4 separate regions of the Homo sapiens genome follow, and regions 1, 2 and 3 are each linked to region 4. Evidence: fine-mapped expression QTL. A gene starts in region 4. Each other region holds a variant in brackets. All regions are shown on one strand. Distances are from middle to middle. Region 1 overlaps ATXN7 (ataxin 7). Region 2 overlaps ATXN7 (ataxin 7). Region 3 overlaps C3orf49 (chromosome 3 open reading frame 49). Region 4 holds the start of PSMD6-AS2 (PSMD6 antisense RNA 2).

Evidence for each region. PIP is the estimated chance that this variant, and not a neighbour inherited with it, causes the effect.
Region 1: its variant is fine-mapped to the expression of PSMD6-AS2 in whole blood (TOPMed, PIP 0.99).
Region 2: its variant is fine-mapped to the expression of PSMD6-AS2 in Th17 cells (Schmiedel 2018, PIP 0.95).
Region 3: its variant is fine-mapped to the expression of PSMD6-AS2 in lymphoblastoid cells (TwinsUK, PIP 0.95).

Annotation. Positions count from the first base shown.
Region 1 is chr3:63,938,975-63,941,629 of GRCh38, reverse strand. All of the region lies in intron 4 of ATXN7 (ataxin 7), which reads right to left. Among named protein-coding and RNA genes, the nearest start is that of PSMD6-AS2, 64 kb to the left of the region's middle. The variant T/A (reference allele first, on the strand shown) is at 1,630.
Region 2 is chr3:63,962,874-63,965,563 of GRCh38, reverse strand. All of the region lies in intron 5 of ATXN7 (ataxin 7), which reads right to left. Among named protein-coding and RNA genes, the nearest start is that of PSMD6-AS2, 40 kb to the left of the region's middle. RefSeq lists an enhancer at 520-1,024. The variant GTT/T (reference allele first, on the strand shown) is at 1,489.
Region 3 is chr3:63,845,301-63,847,990 of GRCh38, reverse strand. The region is part of intron 6 of C3orf49 (chromosome 3 open reading frame 49); the gene reads right to left. The region is part of intron 1 of THOC7 (THO complex subunit 7); the gene reads left to right. Among named protein-coding and RNA genes, the nearest start is that of THOC7-AS1, 14 kb to the left of the region's middle. The variant T/C (reference allele first, on the strand shown) is at 1,565.
Region 4 is chr3:64,002,525-64,005,214 of GRCh38, reverse strand. PSMD6-AS2 (PSMD6 antisense RNA 2) reads right to left here and starts at 1,193. Exons shown (of 3, transcript NR_038286.1): 1 at 1-1,193. ATXN7 (ataxin 7) reads right to left here. Exons shown (of 13, transcript NM_001377405.1): 13 at 1,753-2,690.

The DNA.
Region 1 (2,655 bases), 64 kb after region 4:
AAAGTGAGATGTTTCAAGTAAAAAGCAAGCAACAAAAACCACAGCAGCAGTCCCCAACCTTTCTGGCACCAGGGAACAGTTTCGTGGAAGACAATTTTTCCATGGGACTGGGGCAAGGAGAGAATGGTTTCAGGATGAAACTGTTCCACCGCATATAATCAGACATTAGTTAGATTCTAGGAGCACACAACCTAGATACCTTGCACGTGCAGTTCACAATAGGGTTCACACTGCTGTGAGAATCTAATGCCACCGCTGATCTGACAAGAGGCAGAGTTCAGGCGGTAATGCTCATTCCTCTCTCTCTCCCAAACCCCCCACCCCATAGCCTGACTGCTAACAGGCCACTGACAGACTGGTGCTGGTCCACTGCCCAGAGACTGGGGACCCCTGCACCAGACGACCAAGGAGCTAGAAAGATGAAAATATTCCTAATATTAATTACTCACTAATTACAAATGGCCAATATTATCAATAGTGACCCCTAACAGGTAAGAGTTACAGTGTTTACATTGTCATTGCTTGTACTGAAATTGAGATAAAATGCTGGGGATAGAATAGAGTAGGCAAATATCAAAATCCTGAGGAACCTGCGTTAGGAATGGCAGGTGGGGCTACAACAGTGACCAACATGGCAGTACACACGACAGGTTTGTCTCACGGGTTCCTTAAGCTACTCCTCAAAATACTGTCAGCAAATCCTGACCTCTCAAGTCAGAAAACAAGCTTTCAATGCCATGTGTCCCAAATCTGGAAGTGCCTACCAAAAACCTTATAAATCTTGTCTGCATCCCTACCATTTGGACAAGCATGTAGTCTAGAGTAGGATACGGGCTCTAAGAGTCTACCACTTAGCTTGGTTTTGTAATCTCCAGCAATGTACTTAACCTCTAGGCACATCTAGGCATACAGTTTCTACATTTGAAAATGATAGTATCAACTTTAATGGACTGTTGGACGGAATGAGATAATTCATGTAAAAAGTTGCGGTCTATATCTGTCTAAACACAGTAAGCAGAGTGTACACATAAGGGCTCGATAAAGAACAGTGTTTATTTTGTTACTATTATTATTATTGTGGTTATGATTATAATCTCATGACTCAGTTAAGAATACCATTCCTTCTTTTGTTCATTGCAACACCACATCTGTCAGGTATATTGTGTAAATTCCATGGCTCTCATTCAACTTAGAACAGAATTAATTATGAAATGGCATTGGCTACTGACCTGTCTTTACGTTTTTAAATGGTTAATGTAGCATTTATGTCTGCCGTAAGGCTCCCAGCCTTGGCTGAGGGGCTGTGTGTGTGTGTGTGTGTGTGTGTGTGTGTGTGTGTGTGTGATGGGGCATGGCCTCAATGCTCCAGCAGGGAGTTTATGACTCTGCTTTAGCCTTCACTTCCTGCTTGTATACAGCCTCCAGGTTAGCAAGAGGTGAGATTAGGGCCTTCTCAGGTCCTTTCTGGGCATGCGCACAACTCTACACATCCATGTGGTTTTCTGGATTCCCAGGAGTATGGTGGAACTCTTTGAAGCCCCCAACTGACATCTCATTCCCCAGTGTTTCCTATTTACTTTTTTGGTCAGCCTCTTCTTAGCCCCAGTTGGCATTACCACCTCAAGCAAC[T/A]GTGACATTGAAGAATCACTGCTGATTTTTTTTTTTAACACCCTAGGAATAGGTCACAGAATGAGCTCTGAGCTAGCCCAAATAAAGACAAGTCCTGAGAATGGGGCTTTTCAGGGAGCTACCAGATACATCAGTGACAATTCTCTGAAAATAAGGCTTTGGGGGAGTTCCAAACCCATTCTGTCCCCTCCAGTGGCTGCTAGACTGCTGGCTTTCACGGCTACCCTAGTTGTGAAGCTGCTGGTTTTCAAAGTTACTGTGGAGTTGGGGAGGAGAGGTTGAAATAGGGCAAGTTAAAACACTATAGAATTCTCTGTACTTACAGATTCAGCCATTTTTCTTGAATATATGCTCATCTGAATTTGCAAGCCTTTGGGGTTAATTTGCACAATTCTAAACAAGTTGATTTTGACAATTCTTGCCAGTGCTTTTATTGCTTTTATGGCAGAGCAGATTTTTGGAGGTCCTTACTCTGACATTCGTTAGTGCTTAATAGAAGCATTTTAATGAAGGATAATATCATCAGTTTGTTTATTATTATGTTCAACATTGCTTCGACTATAGTATGGGGAAGGGAGGTGCTTGGTTTGAAAGTGGAAGTGAGGAGGTCAATCAAGAGCTGTCTGCAGCAGTACAGGGTGAAAGACATGGGGATGGCAGTGAGATGACAAAGAAAGGATTCCAAGACATTTAGAAGGAACTGTTGACATGACTTTGTAATAGCCTGGATACAAAGGTGGTGAAGAGAAGGATGCCATGCTTCCCATCTTACAGAACAGGATGGATGGATAAGAGGTATCAGTCTCTGAGAAAGAATCCTGGAAGAATGCCAGGTCTGAGAATGAAGCCCATATATGTGGGACATCTAAGTTCTAAGGGCCTCTGAGACAGCCAAGATACCAAAGAAGCCATCATCTTGAAGATTCTCCCCTAGTTTCAGGCAAATGTCTTACAAATCAAGTCCTAAAACTTTATTTCTTCCATATGCAAAAAAAAAAATTAAAAAAATTTTAAAAGGCAAGGCAC
Region 2 (2,690 bases), 40 kb after region 4:
TCTTAATAGAATAACATCCGTGCCTCACTGACCGAAAATTATATGTATCAGCTGTGGTTTGGATGGTGTACACATGTCAATTTTACTCTAGTGCACAAAGGGAGTTCTGAACTGTGCATTAGCCTATTCGCAGCAAACAGGCAAACTTGCAGGAGGCTAGGAGGAACACTCAAGGTTTGGGTTCAGGGGGCAGCCAGCCTGCAGTCTGAGCACTTCTAGTTGTGCAGCCGTGGGCAAGAGACTCAGGAGAGCTAAGGACTGATACTGCCTCCTCCCACAAGCCTGGGGTGAGGAGTAAATTTGAGATAATGCAGGTAATGCAACGCCCAGCACTTGTTAAACGTTCAGCAAATGTTAGCTATTATGATTACAACCAAGGAGAAACTGGATGGATGATAGAGGAGTTAAACAGAAACAGAAAAACTGAGGTTTCTATTATAGAAATTAGTCAAGTCCCCTACAAATCTTGGGATTTCCTAAACTGAATCCTTGAGAAGCCAGCAGAGGTGTCATTCAGTGCTCTGGAGGGCAATAAACAAGCTGTTGGCAGTTATGAAATACTGTGTTCCTATCATTGGTGAAAGCCAGTTCTCCATTTTACAGGAATACAAGTCTCCACTAACTCCACTTCACTGTCTCAGCAGGCCGGGTGAGTTATAATTGGCCTTAATTGGCACTTACAGGAGCTTTAACATTCCTTACCTGCTGCCAAGGAGCACTTGAAAGGGGAAAAAAGTATTTTCAAACTTGGAAATACCAAGCAATTCATTCGGCTGTGGGCCTGGAAGCCTGCTATCCAGAATCAGATTAGCTTCACCTAGAAATGTTGCTATGTTATTATCCAGAGCTCATTAGGTACTCACACTGGATTAGGAGAGGTGGGAGATGAAATTTAAATGGGGATAATTCACCTTGGGGGCTAAAACCATGCAGCAGCCTTCCTCCAGCTGATCTTTTGGTCGATGGCTCTCCAGGGCTCAGCCACACTTCATGTGTGTAAGGCAGGCAAATAAAATATATCTTCATGGCCTGATTTACACAGGCTTTGAGTTAACCACAGCGTGACCTCAGCCCAGTCATTATTTGAAACACACAATGAACACCTTTATAAGGTGACCAGTCATACCAACTGCAAAGAGGATAGGGAGATCAGAAACAAAACTGGCCATAGTTTTTCCTTGGCCTTGCAATTAATCACACTCAAAATTATGATCCTCTAGGAGGCCTCACATTTTGCACAGGGGAATCCTAGCATAAGAGAATGAGATTTCTTCCTTAAATTCCATACAGAATGAATAGAAACTTCCCATAGACGCCCGAGAAACTGCCTATAATTGTTTAAATATTTTTTAAAATAATCACTCGTTTTGAAAGATCTCTTTGTCTCATATTATTAAGTATTACTAGACTTGTGGTTGTTTGAGGAATTTATTTCAAATTAAAATTAATCATACGTGTGTGTGTGTGTGTGTGTGTGTGTGTGTGTGT[GTT/T]TATGTGTCTAAGGAACATTGTAAGAGGCTTTAGAAAATTAAATGGAAGCTTAGAAAAATAAATACAACACCTACTCCTTTGGAGATAACTCTCATAGTGGCTGGTAGAGATATAAAGCATTACAGCCTTTTTGGAAAGCAATCCAGCAGCAGCTATTAACACTGCAAATAACTAGTCTTTTGTGACCCAGGAATCCCTTCCTGAGACTCTATCCCACAGAAACTAAACCACCAGTAATTAAGTATGTATGTACCAGAGTGGGTACTGCTGTTTGGTTCACACAGACAAAAAGCAAGAAACAAAATGAATGTCCATAGAGGGCCTGGCAGAGGAAGCTACAGCACAGCCACACTTTAGAGCAGTATGCAACCATTAAAAAGAGGGGATTAGTGTTATCCAGGGCTGTGAATGGATTTACATGAGGTATTGTTGAGTAGAAAAGGAGCAGAAGTGTGCATAATAGGATCCACTTTTTTGTAAAACTATCACCAAAAGCCCCTACTAATAAAATACGTGATTCTATGTGCCTGGATAGAGTTAGAAGCATGAGAAAAATATACAAGGATGCATATTAAGTTACATACTAAGAATGCAGCATGTATGATTTATAGCGTAGCATGGACTGCTACAGTTAGAGAAGGCAGGTAAGTTGAAAGAGCCAATGAAATAAGAAAAAGGCTGCACTGAAAATAGTTGAGATGATTACATTTGTGTATTTATATAAAAATACGTTATAGGTGTATATATTTCATATATTCATATGCCAATCAAAAAATCTATAAAGAAACAGGTCTAAAAAATTTGTGTTACAAAAATGCACTGTGAAGGTAGCTAAGAAAAATTAAATACAAAATTCTGGCCGAGTGTGGTGGTTCACACCTGTAATCCCAGCACTTCAGGAGGCAGAGGCAGGTGGATTGCTTCAGCCCAGGAGTTTGAGACCAGCCTGGGCAACATGGTGAAACCCTGCCTCTACAAAAAATACAAAAATTAGCTAGGTGTGGTGGCGTGTGCCTGTAGTCCCAGGTACTGGAAGGGCTGAGGTGGAAGGATTGCTTGAGCCCGGGAGGTGGGGGTTACAGTGAGCCAAGATCACGCCACTGCACTCTAGCCTGGGCAAGAGAGTGAGAATCTGTCTTGAAGAAGAAAAAAAAAAAAAAAAAAGAAATACAAAATTCTGGTATTACATCAAACAAGTG
Region 3 (2,690 bases), 160 kb after region 4:
CAGTTGTGCCTGAATTCTAGAAGGAGGGTGTAATGAGGCATTCTGACCCCACCCCCATTCCCATCATGGCCTAAACTAGTTTTTCAGGTTTACTTTGGAAAGCCCTTGGCCTATTGAATGGGTGTCCATTCAATTGGCTGGAGGGCTTAGAATTTTATTTTTGGTTTACAGTTTCTTCATTAAACTTTTGGAAATTTTGTCCAATGGTATAAACTAAAAGTTATGTCAGAGTTTGTTTTTTTTGTTTGTTTTTTGAGACAGAGTCTCACTCTGTTGCCCAGACTGGAGTGCAGTTGCACGATCTTGGCTCACTGCAACCTCTGCCTCCTGGGTTCAAGCAATTCTCCTTCCTCAGCCTCCTGAGTAGCTGGGATTACAGGCACGCAACCCCACACCCGGCTAATTTTTGTATTTTTGGTAGAAACAGGGTTTCGCCTTGTTGGCCAGCCTGGTCTCGACTCCTAACCTCAAGTGATCCGCTCGCCTCTGCCTCCCAAAGTGCTGGGATTACAGGCGTGAGCCACTGCACCCGGCCTTCTTTTCATTCTTCTGATATAGCTTTTTGGAGACACAGCACTTTAGGATTATAATTGCTTGCAGAAAGCTTTCATAAAAGGCATTAGAACCAAAACAATTAACTGTGGACAACATGACTTAAAATGGCCATGGTTAAAACCTGATGAGAGTTCATTAAAATAATGATGAAATTGACAAGGAAATTTGGTTATTTTTCAACCAAAATTATGACTGATAGCATTTATACCAATACATACCAGATTTATAGGAACTTTTTTTATCACAGGGTGGGTGGGAAGCCTGATTTTAGGGGCTTTCCTAGAAATTTTTTTTAGCAGTCCTTTTTCCAATGTCCTGGTTATTTGCACAAGTGGTGGTACTTCCTATTCGCCTACGCAATTCTTCGATCCATTCCCAACAAACTAGGAGGCGTTCTAGCCCTCCTACTAGTGAATTTTTGGAAACTGCTGTTTTAGGGATTGCTTATTTGGGGAAGCACCCTAGGACAGGCCCAAATGTCATTCTAGGTTGCTGGTTGTCATGGAGCTGAAATACTTGGGGAATGGCTTTTCAAACTGTAATTTGCAGTCTTTTGGGTTTTGCCTGACCCATAAGTAGATCGGACGGGACTTGTTGGGTACTTGATAGAATTCTCAGGAGACTATCATTCTGCCTCTTTCATCCATGTGGGGCTCCCTAGAGTACACCAACACATATACTAGTTGGTACAGATCAAGTATACTGGGGTTATAAATTACCAGTAAGGCCAAGCACGGTGGCTCATGCCTATAATTCCCGCACTTTAGGAGGCCGAGGTGGGTGGATCACCTGAGGTCAGGAGTTTGAGAACCAGCCTGGCCAACATGGTAAAACCACGTCTCTACTAAAACTACAAAAAAATTAGCCTGGCGTGGTGGTGGGTGCCTGTAATCCCAGCTACTTGGGAGGCTGAGGCAGGAGAATAGCTTGAACCCAGGAGACGAAGGTTGTGGTGAGCCAAGATTGCGCCCTTGCACTCCAGCCTGGGCAACAAGAGTGAAACTCCGTC[T/C]AAAAAAAATAAAAATTTTTAAATAATAAGTTACTAGTAAGACCCTGAATTCTTCAGAAAACTTGTGAAATTTTTCTCTAGGTTTAGGAAAATCTTGAACTGTGGCCCTGAAGTCCATTTTTGTCCAGGGAGTGCAAGTCGCTTGGGGATTATCTCCTGATTTTTCAGACGATTCTCTTATAAGGAAACTGTTTAACTGCTTTTTTCAGGGAAGAAAGGCAATTCAGACAAAGCAGACTGAATATTTAGTAGTAGATTGTAAATATTCAGGCAAAGAAAGAGAGAGAGAGGCAGTAGGAGTTACATCAGTTTTACCATCCTTGGTAAGGGAATATCTTCCATTTCCAGCTTTTCATTAGCTCTTTACAGTGAATCTTTTTAAAAGGTGATTTTAGAGGACTGTCTCTTTGAGGCTTCTGAATGCCAATAAGAATTTTGTTCTCTCTGCATAATTTGGGAGGCTCGGGGTTCGAGTGCACTTCTTAGATGAATAGTCTTTTTCATGTGGAACATTCCATGTAATGGCATCATAATTCTGAATTATCTTTTGTAAGATTTTGCCATTTGTAAATATTTGTAGCTTCCAGAACCAGAAACCTTATACACAAAAAAGGCAGACTGGCCAGAAGGGAGGGTACTCAGATCTTTAGAAATTAAAGAAACCATTTTATGTTGGATATTGGGTCTTCCAAAGCCAAAATGGCTTTGGCTTTGAGATCGCCTTGACCAACTTAGCTAATGACATTTCAGTTTCTTTTTTGTCTGACCCAGTCAGATGCCTGAGGCCTCCCTCATCTAAACATGTAAGAAAAAAAGAACACACATACCTATGAATTCCAAAAGCCAGAGTTCATGTCCCCCTCCACCTCATGGTAATAACCACTTACTGTGACTGCCGTTGGTTACCTTTACTACTGCAGCCCTTTATGGTAGCCACAGAGAGTGTAACGCACATTTCCCTCTGGTCATATGCTGGTCACCAATGGGATGCAACCCGTATTTCTGTCCAGCCACATTCTTCAGGGCTTGACCCAAGCCTTTTATGGCATCATGCATGAGATATCACCAGAGTGGGAGCCGAAACAATGTAGTCATTGCCAGTGACTTGTCAGCCACTATGAACCCA
Region 4 (2,690 bases):
GATTACAACAGCTTTGTAACTTATTTTTGTCCCAAGGTTCTCACCTGTTGATTCTGTCTTCCATTGTTATTGGAGGGCCATAGGTGGCAGAGATGTTTTTTCCACAAAGTATTAAATTATAAGTGATTCTCCCCTTCCCCCTGGAGACTTTTTCTTTGGCTGATAGCCTCACTCTCCCTTACCTCCTAAGAGATATTCTGGTCCATGGTCTTTGGATGTAGAAAATGAGGATAACAAGTGCCAAGAATTACAGCCTTACAAGGTGAAATACTACTTTAATTAACTTCCATTAACAACAGGAGCAAGAACTTCTTACAGAAAGAGGAGACTAAGAAAGGAGTGAGAAGGGAGAGGAACTTAAGAGTTGATTTAGGGGAGTGCTTTTTGTTAGGACTGGGGACAGGGGCAGGTAAAGACAGATCTTTGAAGCAAAAGAGAGTGAGAATGCAAGACATGGGGAAAGAGACTTAAGTGCTCCTTTGCTTTTCCACAGTTTTCAGTACAGATTTGAATGGCTTTGACTTTTGGCAGCTGCACAGTGCTAGGACTGGACCATGAAATATCTCTGGGCTCTGACAATTACATTTGGGTTAATCTAAGCCTGATCCCATGTGTTCCTGGAAGAGAAGCCCCATGACATTCAAAGTCCTTGACAATCTGACACCAGCTTTTCTAACCCTATAAGGCCCTTCCATCCAGCAAACTTCCTGCAGAATTATTCTCTATCCCTCACATGTTCATACCCATGCTCGACGCATTTGCTCTCTCTGCCTAGAATCTTACTCTTGTCTGCCTTTCTGCCTGGTTAAATCCCACATACGCCAAGATCCAACACTGCTAAACCCCTTTCCTTGAGTTGGGATCATCTTGTTATGCAGGGCCGGGATACCTGCAAGGGAATGGAATTAAAAAGGTTAAGAGATTGAGCAGTTGAACCTTTTCTTGGGAGGTTTGAGGACAAGCCATAGTGAAAGGATTTACCTACAGAGAGCACCTCATTATTAGATTTGTGGAAAGTACTGAGTGGATGGTTGACTCAAGTAAGGAGGGAATGGGAAGTCCACAGGGCAGTAGGAACTGAAGCCAACATGACTCTTTCATATCAGGTATGGACATTCTTGCTAACACACAGCGGTTCCTCCTCTTATTTTAAGCAACAAAAATAATTTATCAGAATGGTTTATTTGCAAACAGTAAAAATGTCTGGATTTCTAGAGGTAAATGATTATGCTGTGTTCCAAATAATACTAAAATGCACTTGTATTGCCAGTAAGGGAGGTATGTAAAAGAAAGGAAGAGATTAGACCGGGTCTGGATAAAAAGCTTATCTTAAACCAAAACTACATGTCATCAAATTTGCACCTAAGTACAAATAGAATGTGTTTCTCAATCCATCAACTCCCTCGTTTCTTTCACAAACATGCAAGGCCAGAATACAGTAATGTTCACTGTTTACACAGTTACTAATTTATCCAAAGCAAAGCTTTGTGCCCCCAGATGGAAACATCCCCAGGCCTTAGAAGTATTTAGCTTATATAAGAGGAAGGCTAAATTGAAGGGGCTTCACAAGGGTGTTCCATGCCAAAAGTGATGAAAAGTCAGAGTAGACTGAAAGGGTTTAGTATCACAACGAGGCAGAAACGTACAATATTTCATGCAGCCAACCTTATTTATTGAGAAGTCCTAATTTTATTGCCCGTTTAGTAACATGTTTGTTCCACAAGCTAATTTCTTATAAAGCAAAGCACAACCTTTTCTTATAAATAGTATAAATTATTTTATTTACAGAAACTTGTTACAAAACAAATAGACTATATATTTCTTCTCTTTTAAATATCCAAAGTAATTTTCTATCCCTTGACATTTGTTCATGTTCTATACAGCAGCCAACACAAAGTCCAGCTGAGATGCTCTTGATTATGTGTACAAATTATCAAACTATTCACACGTTTTTAACACAGGAGATTGCTTTTATAACCAAGCTCAAAAAAAAAAAAAAAAAAAAAAAAGCAAAATGCTTTCAAGGCCCTACATTCACACTGACAGTATGTAGTGCTCATTTAAATTATCTGAAAATGTAAAATGTTTTGCACAAAATGTAAAAGTGATTATTTTCTGCTAAACAAACTTTTAAGAATATTTTTTCAAAGCCCAATCGCCCCAAACCCCCTGGACAGAATGAGCGACATTAAGAAATTCCTTGGCAACAGAACTCTTGCAGGAAGACAGCTGCCCTTATAAGTTACATTTTTCAAATTATACATTTTTTTCAATGTTCTCAGAGGTACTTCTTTGTATTATATTTTTGGAATACAAAATATTTTAAATATTTTAAATTGTATTTCATGAGTGAATAACAAAACGGACACATCGTGTAAGTTGCTGGCTGACAAAAAGATCTGTAACCCTTGGTGCCACCAGGCAATCCATCACCAATTGAATTACTATGAACCAAGAGGTCTTAATTTTAAAATACCTTATAAAATTACCAGCATTGGTGGTTTTCAACTCCGCCCCTAAAATTTTAGAAACAATATTTAGGTGGAAAAAGCAAACTCCAAAAGTTCAACTGAACATTCAAGTCTTTTTAAAGAGATTCTGTCTAAGCTTAAAACTAGTTTCAGGCACTTTCAGTTTTTTCCATTAGTTTTAAACCACATCACATAGTAACATACATGTGCTGAGTATAC